2 separate regions of the Homo sapiens genome follow, and region 1 is linked to region 2. Evidence: fine-mapped expression QTL. Tissue or cell type: whole blood. Region 2 holds a variant in brackets; the other region holds the start of a gene. All regions are shown on one strand. Distances are from middle to middle.

Region 1 (10,624 bases), 290 kb after region 2:
CATGTTACTATGGCAATTTGAGAGAAAGTAACATTCTAACTGAAGTTGTGGGGATCATAAACCAAATCTACCTAAGAGGTTCATGCCATTCATGCAGCCAAATCACATCTCGGGAGGAGAGCCGCAGCTGAAGCCCCCAGGGCACACTCTCAGCAACCCTTACGGTAAAGTAAAGGCTGGCCAGCTCCTCTGGTTATTTCTCCAAAATCCATCCATAAGTTGGTTATTCGGAACTTTTAACACATATTTGTAGAGAATAAAATCTATAAATGCTGATTAATTCCTGGGTCAATCTACAAACGCCTATATAATCCATAGAGTGCCTAAAATTTTTAACTAATTTTTAATCACATTTAATTTCCCTTCATAACCGTCCCTATTTAAACACACACACACACACACACACACACACACACTTTCAGAGCTCCAAAAGAAGATTCCCCCATTTCCTTACTCCCCTAGATTTATATATATTCCTATGACCCAGGTATTTTTTCTGCCTGCGTATCAGCCTAAAAGAGAATACAATGCTTCACAAACTCCACTGTCTGCAGGGGTATGGGGAAAGTGGGCCTGGGGTAAAACAATAGGATGTAAGCTCCATATATTGACGCCAAGCAGAACACCTGCCAGATTGCTCTGTCTTTTCAAGTACAGCACAGGCCTAACAAAATAGCCAAAGACAGAAGAGGTTGCAATCCCTTTCTAGAATAATCAACCTCCAAATGTTCTGAACTGAAGGAAAGAAGGCTGAGAAAAGATAATGTACCCCACAAACCATAGGACCTAAGATGCGTACTCTTCTGTCACTATCTCACGTGTTCGGGCTGTTTCAAACCTAGAAGTGTTGATGGATTGTGGGACTTCTTGCATCTGAGAACCAGCCCAAGAGCACAAACTCTGAAATTAAGCAGACATGACTTTCAGTCATCACTCCACATTTTAACAGTAGCTCTCTGTGCCTTCCTTCCATACTTTAGAGAGTTTCCTGTGAGGTTTAAGTGATACAAACGTACGAAAGCTCCTAGTTTAGTATATGACTCACAGTAGTAGGCACTTAATGTGAACTGCATTCCTCTTGCCTCTCTGAGGAAAGCCATAATCTTGATAGGGGTCTACTGGTACCCAAGGGGCACCTTTAAGGCTTCAGTTCAAAAATCCACCATACCAGCCCAAGATGACATGAGAGAGTGAGACTCGCCATGATATAAAATAATGAGACATGAACAACACCCAAGTAGCTGCTCCAGTGCTGGTCTCAACACCTCATTCCCAACTCCCATCTTCATCCCCCACACCCATGTCCATGAGATCCAAGTGACAATTTCTATTCTTCCTTGCCTAGAGAATTTGTTCTTAAGTAGAACAAAAGGAAGTTGAAAAAAAGTAGAACCCGTCAATGTGTCACATACAATGGAAGAAAAATCAACTGCTATTTTTAAAATACACATGTAGCTCAGTTTCCACCAACTAATATAGTAAATAAGCTATGCTGCTTCCTATTTCCAAAACATTACAATTATTACTGCACTACAGCTATTTGGAACAGCATTTAATGTTTTGATTAATATAAAATGTACTAAAGCTTTTCTTCTTTGTGTACATTTCAATGCCAAATTTAAAAAAACTCTTGGCAAAACTGTGAAAAATGCATTTTCTCTCAATATAAAACATTTGCTATGTATTTCTTATATGATCTAGACTTTTTTTGGAAACTCATTTTTACTATGCTAAAGGGAACAAACCACAGGGCAGCAGATTATAGGGCTATAAGCAATAATCTAAAATGTTAAATATTTTAAATGCTATAAGTTTGATATCAAATACCAGATAAATAAATGGTCTTATTTCTTAATTAGAAATATATTCAAATGCAGAATAGTAAACAACTTTTAGAGATTATCAATACTGCAGGTATCCAACTTGTCATTTCAAACCACAAGTCATCAAGAAGAAATTAAAATGGATTCTATTGCATTATTGTGGTATATAACAATGCGCTTACCAAAAAACATGCAGCATTTATCAATGTCAATGCTGTTGAAACAATCACACAGAAAAATATAGGAAAAAGTAGACAGATTTTAAAAAAACTTAGTTTAATTCTCACATTGAACGTTTTTAAACCTAGGATTGGTTATATGTGGGGAAGAAACACAATGTCAGTAGAAAGAATTTCTGAAGATGCATACAGATAAATGTTGTCATTGTTTTCCTCAGCTCAGAAGAAAATTGTTTTTTCAACTAAACACATGTTTTCACAAATTATGGAGGGCAAATTTACTAAAAACATTCTTTTTATTAATATACAAGACAGTCTGTTTTCTGTCAGGATAGCACTATTCTGAAACAATACCTTAAATTGAGCTGACAAGAATTTAATATTTGATGATTCACAACCTTTCAGTGGCTCAGCATTATGAATATCAATTATTACTGCACTACAGCTATTTGGAACAGCATTTAATATTTTGATTAAAATGTACTAAAGCTTTTCTTCTTTGTGTACATTTCAATGCCAAATTTAAAAAAAAATCTCTTGGCAAAACTGTGAAAAATGCATTTTCTCTCAATATAGAACATGTGCTATGTATTTCTTATATGATCTAAACTTTTTTTGGAAACTCATTTTTACTATGCTAAAGGGAACAAACCACAGGGCAGCAGATTCAAGAATGTCACCAGAAAGGTTCTTGATCTCAGAGACGGAGTGGAACAGAGCTTACCACCTGCCTTTTTTTCTCCTTAGAAGGGCGTTAAGGCCTCTGGGAACAGACCCCAATGACTGCTGCCCACCAAAGACCTACCAGATTACCCCCTCTAGGCTTCAAAAATGCTTAAAACTATGAGACTTGTAAAACTCTAGCCAGATTTTTTTGTAGAAATCAGGAGCTGCTATAGTTCATCATAGACACATATAGATATATCTGCTTACACATGCATGGAATATTTTGGAAGCATACATAAGAAAGTGTTAACATCTATGAGGGTGGACTACATAAGTGGGAATGTGGAGTGTCTGAGGGTCTTTCCTTCACACTCCTTTGCAACATTTGATTTTTTAAATTATATGTATGTGCTACTTTTCCAATAAAAACCTAACATAATAATTCACTTTATTTTCTAATATCTTTAATTTTAAAGGCCATTTACCAAATGTTAATTGCATTTACTATTAAATAGGGGAAAAATCAAGTTAATATTCTGTTGTCTCCCTCCTTTTTTGTCACAAAAAGAAACTTCAAAACAAAAGAGGCACCATTACTCAGCAATGACCCTTCTGAGAATATAAACCAGCATAGTACAATTCACAAGTGGCAAACTCAGTTGCAAGAATTTGTATATTCCTTATACTCCATTACTTTTGTTTTTTACAACATTATAGAGCCGTTTGCTCTTTATTGTCATATATTTTAAAGTCTCTTGCAGTGCCTGTTTTACACACACAGGACACCATGTAGTATCAATACAGTAGAATCCAAAATGTATGTGTTTCCTAATTGTGATGTTTTTTAAGTTTGAAAACAGTGTGCTTTCTGACCTGTGGGTTAAAAACAAAATAGTAATTTCCCTTTGTCCAAATTCACACCCAGAATAGAACACTCCTGTTACATAATCAAAAAGCCACAAAATAACAGAAACTACTACAAGCCATTTGTAATTACCACCCACTCTTCTTTATATATTATAGAAACCTCTCCACTGATTTTAAACTTCCATGTGTCAGTGTTGGGAAAAAGACTTTACTGGAGCCACATTCTGTGGTTAGTCTACCTAAGCTGGTGCTGGGAGCTTGCAACATGCGTGATGCACTGGTTACGCAGCTTAACCCTGAACAGAGCTTTTGAATATATTAGTGAACCCAATAAATTCAATAGTAAGTAAAAGTCCATCTTTCATTGTCATTGAGGGATGTGTGTGTGTGTATGTACACACACACATATATACTTACATATATACATACATACATATCGTTTTATACTGACTGCTCCACCAAAATCAATTTTAATCTGACATACATTTGATTGATTACTCACATGCATTTACACTGAGGCCCTTTTCCAGAGCCTGTGCGAGGGTTCTTTCCTAAATAACCTTACCCCAAAGTCATGCTCCCAAAAGAGGAAATCTCGAACAGAAGAAACAAGCCCCAAGTGGAAGGAAGATGGAAAGAGAAAGGGGAGGAAAGAGGTTTACAAATTCCTTGCCAAATGGATGGAGAGAAATTCTGTGAGGTGATTAGCGGGTCAGGAAGCGTTTTCCCTGGATGTGGTGGTAACCACAAGGACCAGTGATAATGCTTGGGGGATTGATTGCTTTCCGGTTGTGCTTTCTGCAGCGCAAAAACTCTGGGCTCTTGCATTGCTCTTTACTGTGATGCAGGGTCCACTTAAAACTCTGCCTCCCTACCGGGAAAGTTCACACATCTTGGGATTTCGGGATCATTTAAGTCTAGAGGGATTCTTTTTTTACACTTGAGAGTAAGCTGTGCATTTTCTTCATTGTATGGGAAAAGCTAACCCTTCATTGGAAAGCAATGCACAACCATCCGGTGGGTCTGCATTTATCCAGAGTTCTCCCTTCCTCCCTCCATCAACGGTTTAGTGAAGCTTGCAGAGAAAATGAGGGAAAGCATCCATCAGAACGCAAAGACGCAGAGCGGAACTTTTCCTCTGCCGTCAGTGGGGAGAAAAAGTCACTTGTGCGTCTCGTGGCTGACAGCTGAGTCTGGGAACCTCCGGATAAGGAAGGAAGGTTTGGCGTTGAAGGAGGTGGGAGAAAACAATGCTGAGCCCGGATGCCTCCGGACACCGCACATCCTGCCCGGGTCCCTGACCCACCCATCACCCACAGCCACGCTCCCGGTGCGGCGCGGCTTTGCTTACCTTGATGATGCTGCTGCGCCGGGGGGTCGCCCGTGCTGCCTCCAGGAGGCCCGCCTCGCTGTCCGCTGGGGTCCCCGCGGCGCCTGGCAGTGCGACCCCGCTGCGACGGTCCCTCATCCGGCCCCCAGAGGCCGCCGTCACGCAGTCCCCGGCGGCATCCGGGCCCACTCGGGGGTCGTCTTCGCCCCCCGCCGCGTCGGGCGGCGCCGGATCCTCCCTGCCGGCCGCGCCCTCGGCCATGGCCTGGAGCGTTTAGGGCTCCCCGGGGGAAAGCGGGACGCCCGGCAGCGGAGTCCAGCCGCTAGGCACCGGTGCGCTCCTGCACCGGGAGGCGGCCCCGCCAGACTTTGTTTCACCGCCCAGCGGCGGCAGTGGCGGCGGCGGCGGCGGCGGCGGCAACTTTCTGGAGAGGGGACATCGCTCGGGCAGAGACGTCCTCGGGCTTCGGTCTAGGAGGCTAGCAGTCCGGCGGGGGACGGTGGCGGGAGTGGGGAGGCGATGTGAGCGGGAGGCAGAAGGAGAGGCGAAAAAGAGAGGGAGGTATCCGAAATGTGATGCAAACGCCGGCCCTGCGCCAGACAAAAGGCACCGGGCGCCCAGCCAGGCGGCCTCTGGAGCCCGGACGCCGGCGGCCCGATAGGGGCCAGAGCCGGGCGACTGCGGCCGGGCGCACCCGCCACCTGCCCGCGGACTGCGGCGCAGCGGTCCCAGGAAGTGCGGCGGCGGCGGCGGCCTCCACTCAGCTCTGTTGTGACAGGGAGGGAGACTTGTTTTGACAGCCCTTGGGGATTGGCAGGCGTCTGGGCCTCTTAGGAGCCTCGCCTCGCCGAGGGGGCTCGGCCCGACCAATCCTCACTGCGGAGGGGTGTGCCCGAGCGCGAAGAATGGAATGTGTTCTGCAACTGGGAGCCGGCCCAGCGGGGCTAATGTACTCGAGCCAGGGTGTACCCGCGCGCGCGCGTGTGCAAACCCGGAGGCGCTCCGTGTATATTTTAGGAAGTTTAGATTTGCGAAATGAGCCTGAGATGCAACAAAAATCCAGGTTGGGTGAAGGAGAGGGGAGAAAGAAACCTTCTTCTGCCAAACAAAGCAATTTGGAGGAAAGTGGGTATTGAGTATGAATGTCTAAGCGTTTGGGGTGACGGGGTGAAGCTTTGCGTGGTCACAGGTTAATTGCAGGCTCTCAGGCCAATTCTTAGAAGTCAAGTCCATGCAGAGATAAACTAGGGTTTACTGGGATCTTGGGGTTCCATAATTTGCTTCAGGTTCCAGGAAAGGATTCTAAGGTCATTCTGCAGTGTGAGTAAATATAACAAGGAAAGGGAGTCAGTGAAAGAGATGAGGGTGAAAGGAAACTGAACCAACTAAATCCCTCCGAAGACTGACTCTTAAAAAGCACAGATATAATCCAAGTCAGATAAATGCAGGTGGGGAGTTTAGTCTCTATCCTAAAACATTCCTATTTGACAATGGTTCAGCCTCCTTTCTCTATATAATCCTATATAAAAACATATTTTGCTCATTTCCAGTAAGCTAGCAACCAAGAAGGGAGAGATCTTTGGATGATGAGTTAAGTCACTGAAATTATCCACAGAATGCTCAGATGCAAACCATGGTCCTAAGGCTCCCTGGTAAGACAAAAGACTTGGCATTTTAATTTTAAACTCCTTTGATATTAGAATCTATATTAAACCTCACTTATAACATTACATTTTATCTTATTAATAATTTAATAATTTGAGATTTTACTTGTTCCTTAGTCTGGCTAACAGCATGAGAAATTATTCAGCATTTTAGACCAACAATTTGGTTTGAATCTCATAATTTTAGAGATATATGGGGATTTAGGGATCAACTAGGACATCATTTTTGTTTTACGGTTGAGACAAAGGCCCAGGGAGTCTTGTCTACTAGTTAGTGCAGGAGCCAAAATTAGAATCAGCCACCCAACTCCTCCGATAATCTCTTCACTACTTTATCTGTCTCCTCTGGGCTACAACCAGCCAGAACTGGCAGGGGCACTTGGGAGGTTTCAGATTTGACATTTATCAACTACTAGGGAATACTGAGAAGGCTTGACTTTGCCTTTTCTTTAAACATAAATGCAGCCTAGTAATGAATGTACTGTAGAGAGTAGCAGTGACCTCTGGTTTTAGAACCAACACCACCCTCTAGTGAGATTCTGAGAACTGCATCCATAACAGCAAAGGCTTCTTTTTCCCCCTCATCTTTAAAAGACAGGAGGGGTAACCCAACAAAAGTTTCCTTTTCAACAGGTATGCCTTTACAACGCACAGACTAGAGGAAGAAAATAAAGTGTACCCAGACTTAAAACAACCATACATGTCTTCCATCTCCTTTAGTTCAGGGAATTCCTGTCTATGCTATATAGGAAATATTTTTAATTGCTATCCTCAGAAATATATCTTATTTTAGGCTATCATTTTTTTCTTTGATATTCAACTATTATTACATTTGACTTCTGTCATTTACAGTTGTCAGTGCTTCATTTTTCTTTGTTACTCTAATAAAAGTCCCATTCTTCGGTTGTCCTCTGAAAAATGTAAAACTGCCTTTATCTCACTCATTATCTTGTTATAGGATATTAATGTCATTTATAAGTTCCTCATCCTACAGATTTGTGTACCATTATGATAATAATTTATTTTTACAAATTTTAAAATTAGCATCACTTTATTAACAAACATTCAAGGTCAGTGATTTAAAAAAAAACAGAGGCCAGAAAGTACAGCATATAACTTGCAAAATGTTGTATCTTTCAACTAGACAATGTCTAGTTGGACTCTTTTCTCTTCCTTGGCATCCTTCCCTCTCACCCTCATGTGAAAGTGCACACACACACACACACACACCCCTCTGATTCCTTTGCTCTGAGCCTCTATCCGTAAAGATTGTTGTCTAAATTACTCTGCTTTGATAAACTAGTTGGACCCTAATCTAGCAAGTCGTTTATATTGTTGTGTTCCAGCATAAGCTCAGAAGGCTTTTCCTGATACTCATGTTTGCAATTGAAAAAAAAAAAACCCCTCCTATGTACTTGCTCCTAGCCAGGAGCAGATTCTGCTTTGTGGACCCACTTCAAAAACTGAAAGAGACTAGCTAGTTTCAGTTAAGTCAGCAGCCATGGGCACATTCCTACCCCTGCATTAACAGTCCCTCTTTCCAAATAGCTGTCACCTACAATTCTTGCCTCCCAACCTTTTACCAAGTCATGGTGACAATTGCTAGATTGGCAGATTGGAATTTGGGGGTGAGCAGGGGTAGGAAGGTAAGATATGAATAATAGTAACGAGCAGGAAATTCAAATGTTACTACGTCAGAAAGGACTCTCTAACTACAAATCTCAAGTTGCCCCTACAAGCCTCAGTACATGTCAGTCATATTGTGTTTTGTCTTCTCACAGGATTTTATCACTGTGAACAAACTGTCTTTTCCGTGGAATTGTTTACTTACATATTCTGTTTTACTTTCCCCCTATCTCTGCTTCACTGAAATGTAGAATGCCATCTCCATGTGCCTAAAGACCTTGCGATTTTATTCATTGCTGTATCTCCAGCTCCCAGAACTATGTCTGGAACAGAGTAAGTGCTCAATAAATATTTATGGACAGAGGACTTTTGCAGTCCTGTGACTAAATAAAATAATCAATCTGATAAAGAAAAATGGTTCTGTCACTGTCTGCATGGTAGAACTTCTCATCCTCAAGGATCCTAGAATTCCATTTTAGAGCAGAAATCAGAACAGATCCACACCAAGCAGCTACAAATCTCAGAAGAAGGGCACTTATTAATTGGAATGACTTGAAATCTAGAATTAGACTGAAATACAACCAATAAGAACTAAGCAAGTTCTAGCAGTCCTGAAAATACCTAGACCAGACTAAAAGACTAGATATGTCAATATAGTCCTTCCAGCCAGGGAAGTCCAGAACCCTGGGCCTGAGAAAAAACCAGTGAGAATATTAAGACTTTCCATATACTACCAGGAAGTCATAGTGGGGGGAAAAGAACTATCTCTTTGATAACTGCTTTCTATGTACCAGATAATCCTCTCTGCAGTATTCTGATCTCCACTTCACAGATAAGAAAACTGGGGATCAAAAGGGTCAAGTAGCTTGCTTGAAGTTAGAGCCAACTAGGAAGTGAAAGAACCAGCATTTGAGGCAATGTTAGTGACTTCAAAGCCTGCATTCTTCCTGCTACCCAAAGCTCTCATAAGATACAAGTCCAGTAGCTGTCCTGGAGAATGAAGAGCCACTCCTTCAGATCTGGGACCACTCATATTAACCATGACAACCTCCTCTCTCAACATCAACATGACCTTTATGTCATCAGCATGGACCACCAGTATGACTGATTCATTAGTGCATGAGGAAACACATTTATCATCTCATTCACATATGTGTAAGAAAAATATTTTTATATTGAGACAGGTCTCCTAATAAGTTAAAGGACGCATTGCACGTAATCAAAGAAGAGGACATACAGCATTTTCAGTTAAGTTGCATGCATCTTTACATTCAGTCATAGCCCTCCCCAATATACATGGTGATCATTTTGTTTTGCTAGCTCAAGAAAACAGAATTTGTAGGGTAATTTGTAGAGTGAATATTATAGTAGAGTAAATACATACAAGTCAATAAAAGATAAGCAAAACTTGATATATGACCTCTTTGAAATTCAAGTTTTTTCTTGAAAGTTTTTGTCACTTATATTAGGAATTAAGAAATTTCAGTAACTAAAACATAAAAATCAACTAATCTTATTTCAAAGAACAAGTAAAGTGTGCTCCATTATAACAGTCCTACAAAAATGAGAAGTTACAAATTGCTTATAATAGGTCTAGATTCCCCAGTTTAATAAATCTTTAAAGTACTGAGAGGCAATGAATCTAAGAAATCTTTAATTACAGCCAATGTTCTTCAATGTCTGATTACTGCTGCTTCTTTCAGAGGTTGAGAAATCTCTACTGTCTGCAGGAGAGCAGAATGCCTGGGCCTCTATCCATTAACACCATTCCCACAGGAATTACCCCATGAAGACCCTGGGGCTAAGGCACTATCAGGAGCTCCAGGCCAATCATCTGGCAGTAGTCTGTATTGTGCATGGCAAAGGTCTTTTAAAAATAGACAGTGTTGATTTATTTTCTATGTATTAACTTACTTTGACGTGGATCCTGGAGTTGGAGCTCATGTCACGGTTTTTTCCCCCACTGATGCAGAAGCCAGAGGCACTTAGGAAAAGTACCACTGAAATGGCACAAATAAGGCCCCCATAAAAACTTGATTCTCTGTTTTATTTGACAACCGAATCTTTTCCAGGTACAACGTTATGACAGAAATCTTTTCAAACCAGATATACACCCAATGCCTGACATTTTCAATGCAGAAGTGAATATACAGTAGGTTCCTCCTCCCCTCGAGCCCCCAAATCCCAGGTACATTCCTCAAATCTAAATCACCTACACGATGTTGGGGTTTTTAATCCTCCAACTTATACCAAGGTATGAAGTTTATTAATGCTTTTTAGTGTCACAGGGCCCATTGGAAGAAACTGCAGAGTCATATTTCCTTTTCTAATGCACTTCTTTTCTCCACTCATAATGTGTAAGACTCTTACACCTATTTTATAGACTTTATTGATATGCCTTTGTTCTAGTCTACCTTAAACCTTTCGGGAGGAAGAAGCAGAGTGCAATATTTGAATAAATATAAAATC
Region 2 (10,624 bases):
GCCAAAAATCTCCTTCCTTGGAACTTCTACTCCTTGGTGCTAGCTGGACACAGACCAAAAAGGTCTAAACTCTTTTCTACAGTGCAAGCTTTTAGATATTTGAAGAAAGATATTGGGTAAAATCCCTTCAAGTCTTCTCTCAGTTAACCATTCAAACATATTCAGCTTGCCAATGAAACTCTTCTTTAAAGATGGCATCCAGGCAAGGCCACTGCATTGCCCAGTTTCCTGGAGCTGAGCTCTGTGGGAACTTGCCTCCAGGAGTGAACGCTGTACTCAAAATGGGCTTGGAGAAGCCTACATGAGGTCAGGGATCTACCACCATTCTCCTTGTTCTAGTTTTTATATTTTTATTAATGCAGCCTAAGACCACGTTAACTTTCCTGGTGCTAACATCACAAACATAGCACATAGTAAAGAACATGAGTGTGGAGCCCAGCTCTACCACTTACTAGCTATGTGAGTCTCGGAAAGACCCTGACATCTCTGGTCTTCAGTTTCCTCACGGGTGACATGTGGTTAACAAGTGGGTTTACCTCATGGGACAGAGGTAAAGCTTAAGTCAATCAGTACATATAAAGATCTCAGAGCAGTGCCTGGCATCATGTAAGTATCAGGTATTATTATTTTTGTGCTTCCTGTCAACAGAAATATCTAAGCCTGCTGGTCAGCCAGTGAAAAGCACCATTTTAAAAGTTTGGTCTGGATTCAAAGGGCAGCTCCACCGCGTGTTGATATGGCACCTAGGGTAAGTCACTCAGTCTCTCAGAATCTCAGATGCCTCATCTATAAATCGGATATAATGATGATTACTTTGCAGAGTTGTCATGAGTAAGATAGTGTGTGTGCTTGGTATAGCATATGCAATGTATCAAGCAGTTGCTACTATTGTCATCTTCCTCGTCATAATCATTATCGGGTATGTGGATAGAGAAGGTTGTGGATCCAGGAGATGAAAGCACAAGGGTGTGGATGAAGGTGAACAGAAATAAACAAGTACACTCTCACAGATATGTGACTCATCCCATACTTAAAAAGAAAGAACAAATCTAAATCTAAAGTGAAGACTAGTAATGGGGCAAAAGCCTGGAAGATTAATAGGATTTTGGTTCCAATTGTAAAATTGAAGTGGGTTTTAAGGGACTGTATGGAACCATAGCTTCAATACCAGCAGTAGAAGGTTTTGATGGGGTTCCAAACCACAAAACTAGATTCAGAAACCCTCATCCCTCTAGACTTCTTCAGACACCACCCCAACCCTGTACGCTCACATACAACCCACCTATTATCACTTGGATTTCATCTGTACTAAACAAAGACTAAAGTGTAACTTAAAGTATAGTTAAGCATTGCTATAAAATAACTGCATTTTAAGAGAAGCAGAAAGTTTCTGAAAAAAAAATCTACCAAGAATTATTATAGTTTCCAAACAAAATAGAAAAAAAAAACAGAAAAAAAAATTAAAAACAATTACCTGCTTTCTGACACTGTACAATCTTTTCCTGGACTGTGTCCGCCATTTCTATGAGAAACCGGCTCTCTTGAATCATCTGTTACAAAATAAACATCAAAAAGGTGGTTGTCAGAATCCTTGAACTGGCTCATTGGGAAGACGACATACAGAGAGACCCACATGATACCTCCAGTAAAAGTAAGCCATAGTCTCACCACAACAGATGGGAGGGAGAAGGATAAGCTCTGTTCCAACCCCCATCCATCCTAACACTGAGGCTAGTGTCACCTTCCTTATGATTACTCTCTTGTGTAACATGCTTGGCACACAGTGGGCACCAAATAAGTAGCTGTCAAATAAATGTATATACATTCCTTATGTCCCAGGTCATATTCATAAATACCTAATTCCACTCCCTTAACATCAAAGATTACTGCAATATCAAGGCAAGTGGTATTGGAACATAATAGCAATGAGAACCAGAATAGGGTTTTTTATCCTTCCAGAGGCAGCAAAGTCACCTTTAAAAATATTATCTGCTCCATTTTATCCTCCCTGTCTCTCCCCCACCCCACTCCCACCAAAAAAATGAAGTATCTCCTATCTTCTCCGAATTCTCTCAAGCAGCACTCAAAGGTGGGCTTGAAGTCCCACTCAGCTACCAGTAGGTTCTGGTCCTTCTGATCTCACTCCTTCCTAAGTACCACTTCCAGAATCATCATCCAAAACTACAGTACTAATTCCTGGCTTTGTCATTTTCTCCCTTGCTTACTGAATGAAGTAAAATTTTTCTAACCTAGAACTATGGTGTTCCAGTTCCCCTAAGTCTCAGTTGACATGGATGAATCACGCTTCTCTAAACACACCCTACTTGTTCCTCCTCCCACACATTTCTTTCTATTAGGGAAACTTTCTTAAGCCATCTGCCCTGATCAAAATCCTGCCAGGCCTCAAAGCTCACTTCAGTGCCCTCTCCTCTATTAGTTTCCTGATTTCCCCTTCTGTCTCCTTCTCACTCCCCATATTCCCAAAACATTCTATTTTTTTAAATCTGTTCATGGAATTTTTTTATTTTCTATCTTATGATTTATTCTTTACCTATATTATTTCCATCTTGTTACTTCTCCAGTAAATTGTAATTCCAGTAGAGCAGGGACTCAATCTTATTCAGCTTTGTATTCCCAGATGCATCCATCCATTTACATAATCACTTTTTTCCCCGTTTTGCTTTTGTGATACTTATTTCTTCTCTCTGTCTGCTACCCACATATGTGTGTGCAATAAAACATTTTATTTATTACTGACCACTTCTCAAACTTGTAATTATCTTTTTGAACTCCCATCTCTCTTTTTGTCTCTAGATTTCTCCACTCTTATTTTTCCTAGGCTTCCTCATTTTTCTGTAATTTTGTATGCTCTTAATTCTCTTTCAAATTAAGTACTGAAAAATAAGCATAAAGCTTTTAATAGGATTACCCCTGTAGAAATATAATACTCAAACATCAGAAAGTAAAACAAATGTTAAAACTTTATTACATGCTTATTTGAGGTAAAATAAATTTAGGATCAAAACATACTCCAAAACCTTATAGTTCAAGTTCTTCTCAAAAGCCCCCAAGTAAATATTTGTTAACCCCATGGTATAAGTTGTTTCTGTTTTTCCCATTGTCTAATAAACGTCATAAAGAGATAATCGAGTATAATTTTACCTCAAAACAAGCTTCTGTTTGAGATTCCTCAGAAATAACCAGAAATCTTTTAGTAATAAAAGTCTCAAATTGTGTCCTCACATATCTTATCATTAATATTCTCAGAACATAAAATCATTGCTCATATGAAATTGTTTCATAAGGGGATTTGATTTTTCTCTCTGTCAACAGCTTCTATTGTATTGAGAATTATAAATTTATTCTATTTTCTGCAGTCAGCTTTCAATTATTAGTAGCTATAGAAAAAACAAATGAGATGAATAGCTAAAATGTACCAATAATCCAAACCACAATTTAAGTCAAAAATTTCAAATTTTCCTCTCAACTAAGTAATTTATCTAAGTTGTCAGGGAGAAAAAATGGTCGATTTGAGTTTCACCTCCTTCCAAGATCTCTAAATGATACTGATGGAAATAAAATACAAAGCGCAAAAGCCAAGCAGAGAAGGTGAGAAGATGTCCTCAGATAATCCCTGAGCCGGGAAGTCAGCACGACTCAGCCATGACGGCTGGGTTGATTCAGTCGATAGAATCTGGCAGTGGCCTGATTTACATATCTGATGTCTCAGCCTGAGCTGCTAGTTGCCTTTGCCTGTTGTAGTAATACAAAGAGCTTTTCTCTGGTTCTGTCACATGAATATCTCCTAATGGATCTTATTTCCTTGTCAGGGCTTTGTCTCTAAAAGAATAGAGGACTTGCCCAGATAAAGGTTGACATTACTTTATGCATTAGATGTATCCAGAGCAGGGGTGTGTAAAGTTACCCTTTAAGAGTAAAATTATGTCTTTAAAAAGAAAACTTTACTGAAGGGGGCAGTGATACTGTTACTCAAAGATGGATTAAATTGTCCAGCTTTTGTGAAGAAACTATCCTTCCAGCTCTTACCAGTAAGAAGTTTAACTAATTGCCCAGAATCATTGCAAAGTCAATGTAATTATTTAATAATACTGAAAAGATGCACTTTCGTCATATTAGGACTCAAAAATCTTGCATAGATTCCCATTTTATCCTGAATTAGACCTAAATTCCTAGAACCACAATCTTTCTACTTAGAAGTTATCTTAAAGACAGTCTATCATGGACAACCACATTTTATAGTTGAAAACCCTGAGCTAAAACTTAGCTTGCTTAAAGCCACACAACTAGCTAGTGAAACAATTTAGACTAGAATCTAGGCATTCTTGAGGAGCAGACCATATTAAAGTGTAGAATTCCTATTGCAAGTGCAAGTTGGTAATAAACAATAAAGTAACATTCATCAAATTAAGCATCATGAAAATAAATTTTGCCATGACTGCTTTTCCCTCCAAGTCTAATTCACAACATGCATCAATCATGATAAACATTTTTTCATATGAAACATAGGAAGAAATGTATTTACTTGAGTCCTCTGTTTTTTCAGGAAGGAGTTAGGAACTTTGGAGAAGCTATTGCTTGAGAAAATGTGAGTCAATAAAAAGCTAATCTACTCTAGACTTTTTTTGTCCTCTCCTTTTCAGAACACTGGAATAATTCCTCTAGCTCTTACTTTCCTTCTAAGCAAAAAAACTAGGTTTCGATTCTATGGTTCTGCAGTGGCTCATCTTTTCAGATCATTTAAAACAAGATGACTCTTATTAAACTTGGTACATTTGTAAATCAGATTGCTCTTACATATATATTTGCTAACTAGAATGAAGATTATTTCCTTTCATTCTCAAGTTCCTTAAATATTTAAAATGAAACAAATAAAAGCATTGCTAATAGATTGGCATGTTGTTTTTAAGCAATCAAGCCTGTCAGTGTGGTCAACTCTCGGTCATACAGAAACAAGTGTAAAGTCAGAATATTTGCAAGTTCACTGGAAGTCCACTGCCTTTGGTGTATGCAACAGAGCTCTCTGTCCTGGGACTAATGCATCACATTTGCAAGCCTGATTTGTAATGGCGCAGGACAAGTGAACTTGCACACAGCAAGTCAGAGGACGTTTGTCTCCACATTCACAATGGTGACAAAATCTACTTCAGGGGGCCCTTTTGGCATAAACAGATCATTTTTTTTCTCTTGTTGTTTTGTTCCCCAAACAGTTGTCAGCTATACCTTGAGTAGTCATTAGAAATATTTGTTTTTATCCAGCTGTCATTACGATTTAACTCCTTCATAAAATATCCAGA[C/T]GAGTAGCCTTAGTAAACCTTCTCCAGAATTTTCAGGCCAATTTGACTACCTTACTACCTTTAACCAAAAGTGTTACAAAGCCTGAGGATTCAAGAATGCAAAGCCAGCTTTGAGTATGCATGGACAAAATTCCACAAAAAAAAGCCAACCTGAAATACTTGCTTATGGATATGTATCTCTGATATCCATGGTCCTAGAGATCCTGGTACCAAGTAGAAATTTTGCCACTCCTCAAGATGCTGATAATTTTCCCCTTACACAGAAAATGTGTCCAAAGACATTGCTGTACCCACATGTGAAGGAAGTTTCCATACCCCAAGAATACAGCATCTTGTTTTTAAACACCGAGCTCTGTTTGGGCACATGCCAGCAGACAGTTCTTTTTTTAGGTTCTATTACTATACAAGCAAAGATACTTCTTGAAATGCAAACTAATAGAGTTCCACACAAACTTCACAATAAGAGACAGTGATGGAATGAGACTATCTTTGACTGAATCCAATTTTAATTTAAATGGATTTCAATAAGCAAAACTAAATCGGGGAACTATAGACATAACTACAACTCTTTCCCATCCTGAGGCTGAATATATACTGGTTATAACACTGATATAACAGAATGTATTTAAGCCAACCATTATGCCTGGCTTAACTGTAATACTTACTAGTGTATTCATTCCATTGCAAGCGTGATTAGACAGCAATTAGCTCTTTTTTGCTAGATTCCTGCTCACTCTAGCACTATCAACTGCTCTCCAAATCACCCCCAACTGACTTAGTAAAAGATTAAATAACCCTTGACTTATGTTCTCTAGATTGTTTTGATTTCCTTTTTTTAACAACAAATTTAAAAAAAATTGTTCTTACCATAGTAAAGTTTTAACTTTTATGTTAATGTTAAATAAGGTAGCACAGAAGTCACCTTGGAGAATGCTTTGGGCTTATTTCTTACAGTTGCAACCTCCTGTAGCTATTCCACTTCAGAATGATATATTTAAGATATTACCCAAATATTTTTCATAACAACTTAAAATAATGGAAATGATCAAATATATTAGGAAAATACTTCTTGACTGCATGAAAAATTAGAAAGGTGAGAACACTGAAAAGGAAAAGCTCGGCCATCTAAAGAAGAAAGTATATAAAGTCAGATAATATTTTTCTTTCAAATGTATTTGGAAATAAAATTCTGCTGAGTACCAGGTGGCAGAGGTGGTAGAAGAAGTGTGTTATAAGTCACTGTGAAAAGTCTATCATAGGACTAAATGATCTAAGACTCCAGCTAAGGACATAAAATACCATGTGGTCAACTCTCTGAACACTGCGTGTGACTACTTCCCTTTTTAGGTGTAAGTCCTCCTTTCCCATCAGGGTTGCCCATTCCTCAAGGACAGAAGTTTTGCTTCATACTATTTCTTTCTCTAGCACCTTGCACACTGCCTTGCACATAGTAGGCATCCAAAATATTCTTGTTTAGTTGAATAATTAAAAGCCTAAAGACATATACAAAATGGCATATCAAATGAGAAAATGTTATTTTACAAGTGGCAAATATATGTGTTCCTACACATTTTCCTATTTCTCTTGAGTTACAGAACTGTCATTCGTTCTATCATGACTATCTGTGCTGATTCCGTCTCTGCTTATTCATCTTTGGTTACACAGAATAAAACGTAGAAATGTGACTAGAGTAAAACATTAGGGCTGGAGCTAAGTCTACATGCATAAAAACACGATTGCAGAATGAAAAAAGTCAAACCAATTCAAACAAACTAGTTTTGATAGTGCCCTACTAAAATTACAAAATGTTTTCCAGTGTAATCCCCTGCTATTACAACTCCATGTTAAATGATGAGTAACATATTCACATCCCCAATAGTAGACTCCTAGGGCTGGGTAGTACCTCACCAGGTTACATCTCCTGCTGGTAAGCTGCTGAAGCACAAGATCTGCTGAACCTTCCACAACATTTAACGCAGTGGCTTGCACATTAAAAGGAGTTCAGAAAATGTTTATCAAATTAAACATCTCCATTTTCTGGCTATAACACTAAGTAACTCTTTCTGTAACCAATTTTTACTCTTAACAACACCCAATTTAAGATGAATCCTAAATGAAAAAAAGTCATATTACTTTTATTTGCAAAATATAATTATATGACATTATCAGCCTTAAAAGACGATGACTCTGTGACTATACTACCTACTTCAGTGGGATATTTTTCCAGAGAAAGTAAAAATCCAGAGTGGGGAAGTGATGCTTGCTCTTTCAGAGACCTGAGCCAAAAAAGAAGAAGAATCGCAGTAAAATAAATGGAAGAGTCACTTAGAAATGGTCTTCTGATTTCAAATTAAGCTCCAGGGACAGTTTCTGGAAAACTTTCCTGATGAGCAGAGGGCCACTGAAATGGCACTGTGGTGAACAATCCAATGCCAACAGCTCTTCTCTTTGTGTATTTAGCCTGCGAAAGAGGCATCCATTCTACCTTCGACTTTTAGAGCCTTTTCTACTTGCCAGAGTTATTGATTGATAGTGCTCCCAGTTCCCTCTAGTGCTGTTTTAGAAGCTGTACACTTCCCACCTCCAGCCGTGACACGTTTTATATCAGCAAAGTCATCTCTGCTTCAGTTGCACAAAATACTAGATAGGCATTTACATGGCAACATCCTATTGAGAGTATTAATGGTAACAGTAAACAGGGCTGCCCGTAAGCAAATTGCAATTCTTTGAGCAACCCCACCTTCACCTTACCCAGACTTGGTGAACCCTCTGTCATTACCATCTCTCGCTTCTCCCAGGTTAAAACCTGCTTGTAGAACAGGATCTGCTAAATTTACTCGAAAGTAAGAATGAATTACTGATAACCCAGTGTGTTATTACTCACAGGGATGTTGCTGCATTTTAAAAAAGATAAAAAGTCTTAACCCTAGGGAACTGGTTGTAATTTTGAAATTTCAAGTCCCAGGAAGCAGACAGAAAACGTATACTTTAAGTAAGATGTGCTAAGACAGGGGAGAGTGTGCCTTCCCTTTCTTCTGAAATTCTGCCACGTCAATAGGCCCATTTTGCTACAAATACATTTGATTTTTGATTTCTTGATACCAACACAGTTGCTATAATGGAATTATAATTGCAAGACTAATTTAAAAGGACTTTTAAGGCTGGGCACGGTGGCTCACACCTGTAATCCCAGCACTTTGGGAGGCCAAGGCGGGCAGATCACGAGGTCAGGAGATCAAGACCATCCTGGCTAACATGGTGAAACCCTGTCTCTACTAAAAATACAAAAAATTAGCTGGGCATGGTGGTGGGTGTTTGTTGTCCCAGCTACTGGGGAGGCGGAGGCAGGAGAATGGCATGAACCCAGGAGGCGGAGCTTGCAGTGAGCTGAGATCGCGCCACTGTACTCCAGTCTGGGCGACAGAGTGAGACTCCGTTTCCAAAACAAAAAGAGAGAGAGAAAAAAAATGACTTTTAAGACTGAATTTTAAAACCCTCAGGAGGAAATATTTTCAAATATTTAATGACTAATAAATAGTGGGATTTATTTATTTATTTATTTATAGTGGGTAATAAATATGGAAAGCTAAATTTAGGGGAAAAAATCTGTGCAGATGAACTCAGGGTCAGTGTTTTCTAGAATATTTTATTTTATTTTCCCTTGATAATAGTATAATTTGATGCACTCAAGTTTGCTTTCAACAAATGTAGGCTACCAAGTTGCCTGATTTCTTTCTTTCCATACTGAAAAAAGAAAACATTTGTATCTGTTCAGGAAAGATTTCAGGTTGTTTTTATTCTAAACATATTCTGCATTTTTTAGTGGTAACAATTTTTCCTCTTGGATGGCATCTACACAGTTCATTACCATTTTCAAGAAATCCAAAAATTTAAGCAACTTAAGTCTAAATTGAACCCAAGCTGTTCATTTTGGAATACCTTCTCCCCACACCAACCACACCACTAGGCAATAAATCTTGGATTTGCTTTTTTCCCTTATTCATCCAAATCAGTTTTTATTAATAGTCTGTGGTAGGTTGGGGGGGTGGTTAGACTGTATTTTTACGAGAAGTTTCAAGTTTGCATAAAAAGTAAATGGAAAGTACAGAGTCCTCACCCTCTAACTCTACCCCCACCTCCCAGTTTTCCCTACTGTTTACATTTTGCATTAGTGTGGTATATTTACTACAATTGACAAGCCACTATTGATACATTCTTATTAGCTAAAGTCCATAGTTGACATTAGGGTTGACTCTTTGTGTTGTACATTCTATAGGTTGTTGACTAGTGTATAATGACATGTATCTGCCATTACAGTTTCATACAGAATAGTTCCACTGCCTTAAAAATCCTTTGTGCTCCACCAGTTCATCCCTCCCTGACCCACTCAAAGGCCCTGGCAAATAATAATCTTTTTACTGTCTCCATAGTTTTGCCTTACTCTGTAAGTTTTTTAGCCAAATATAAGATAGGGAACAATTCAGCAAGGGTGGTGTCAGAGAGGTAAAATCAAGGGGATTTAATAATTTATCATCAAACATGTTCAGTTATAGGATGGAAACTACACGATTTTCACCAACAATAGATGCTTTTATTTATTGTTTTTACTCAGTGAACATTACCTGATAACGTGCTATGTGCCAACATTGTTTTGGGTGCCAGAGGTGACAGTAATAAATATACAGATAGGATCTAACCTCACGGAGTTTACATTCAAATTGAGGAGTAAAAGAGGACAGCAATTAAAAAGTTCAAGCAAAGTATTTTTCAATACTTCTAAGCAGGAAGATGGAAATAAAACATGGCTATGTGACAAAGGAATGTATGGGGAGAGTAGTTAGGGAAGGCTTTTCTGAGAAAATGACATTTGAGCTAAGAATTAAGAGATAAGGAGGAATAAATTATGGTGTTCCATTGCACAGTAGTGACTATAGTTAACAATAATATATTGCATATTTCCAAATAGCTAGAAGAGGTGGTGTCGGTGGTACAGTGGTAAGTACCTTGCAAAATAGCCAGAAGAGAGGATTTTAAATGTTCTCACCACTAAGAAATAAATGTTTGAGGTGATGGATATGCTAATTACTCTAATTTGATCATTACATATTGTATAAATGTACGGAAATATCACACCATACCCCATAAATATGTGCAAAGAAAGCCAGTGTGGCTGGAAGAGAGTGAGCAAAATAGAGGGTGTGAGAATGAGGCTGGAGAAGCAGATGAGACTGGAGAGGCAGGTGAGGTTGGGGAAGGCAGGTGAAGCTGGAGAGGCAGGTAGGCTAGAAAAGGCAGATGAGACTGGAGAT

The links. PIP is the estimated chance that this variant, and not a neighbour inherited with it, causes the effect.
Region 1: PLCL1 starts here. The variant in region 2 is fine-mapped to the expression of PLCL1 in whole blood (INTERVAL, PIP above 0.99).

What each region holds. Positions count from the first base shown.
Region 1 is chr2:197,799,602-197,810,225 of GRCh38, reverse strand. PLCL1 (phospholipase C like 1 (inactive)) reads right to left here and starts at 5,633. Exons shown (of 6, transcript NM_006226.4): 1 at 4,887-5,633. The coding sequence starts at 5,126. LOC105373828 (a long non-coding RNA gene) reads left to right here and starts at 5,680. Exons shown (of 4, transcript XR_001739850.3): 1 at 5,680-6,517; 2 at 8,407-8,488; 3 at 9,340-9,402; 4 at 9,859-10,624. RefSeq lists a silencer at 5,457-5,586.
Region 2 is chr2:198,092,211-198,102,834 of GRCh38, reverse strand. PLCL1 (phospholipase C like 1 (inactive)) reads right to left here. Exons shown (of 6, transcript NM_006226.4): 4 at 1,475-1,550. Among named protein-coding and RNA genes, the nearest start is that of LINC01923, 280 kb to the left of the region's middle. The variant C/T (reference allele first, on the strand shown) is at 5,316.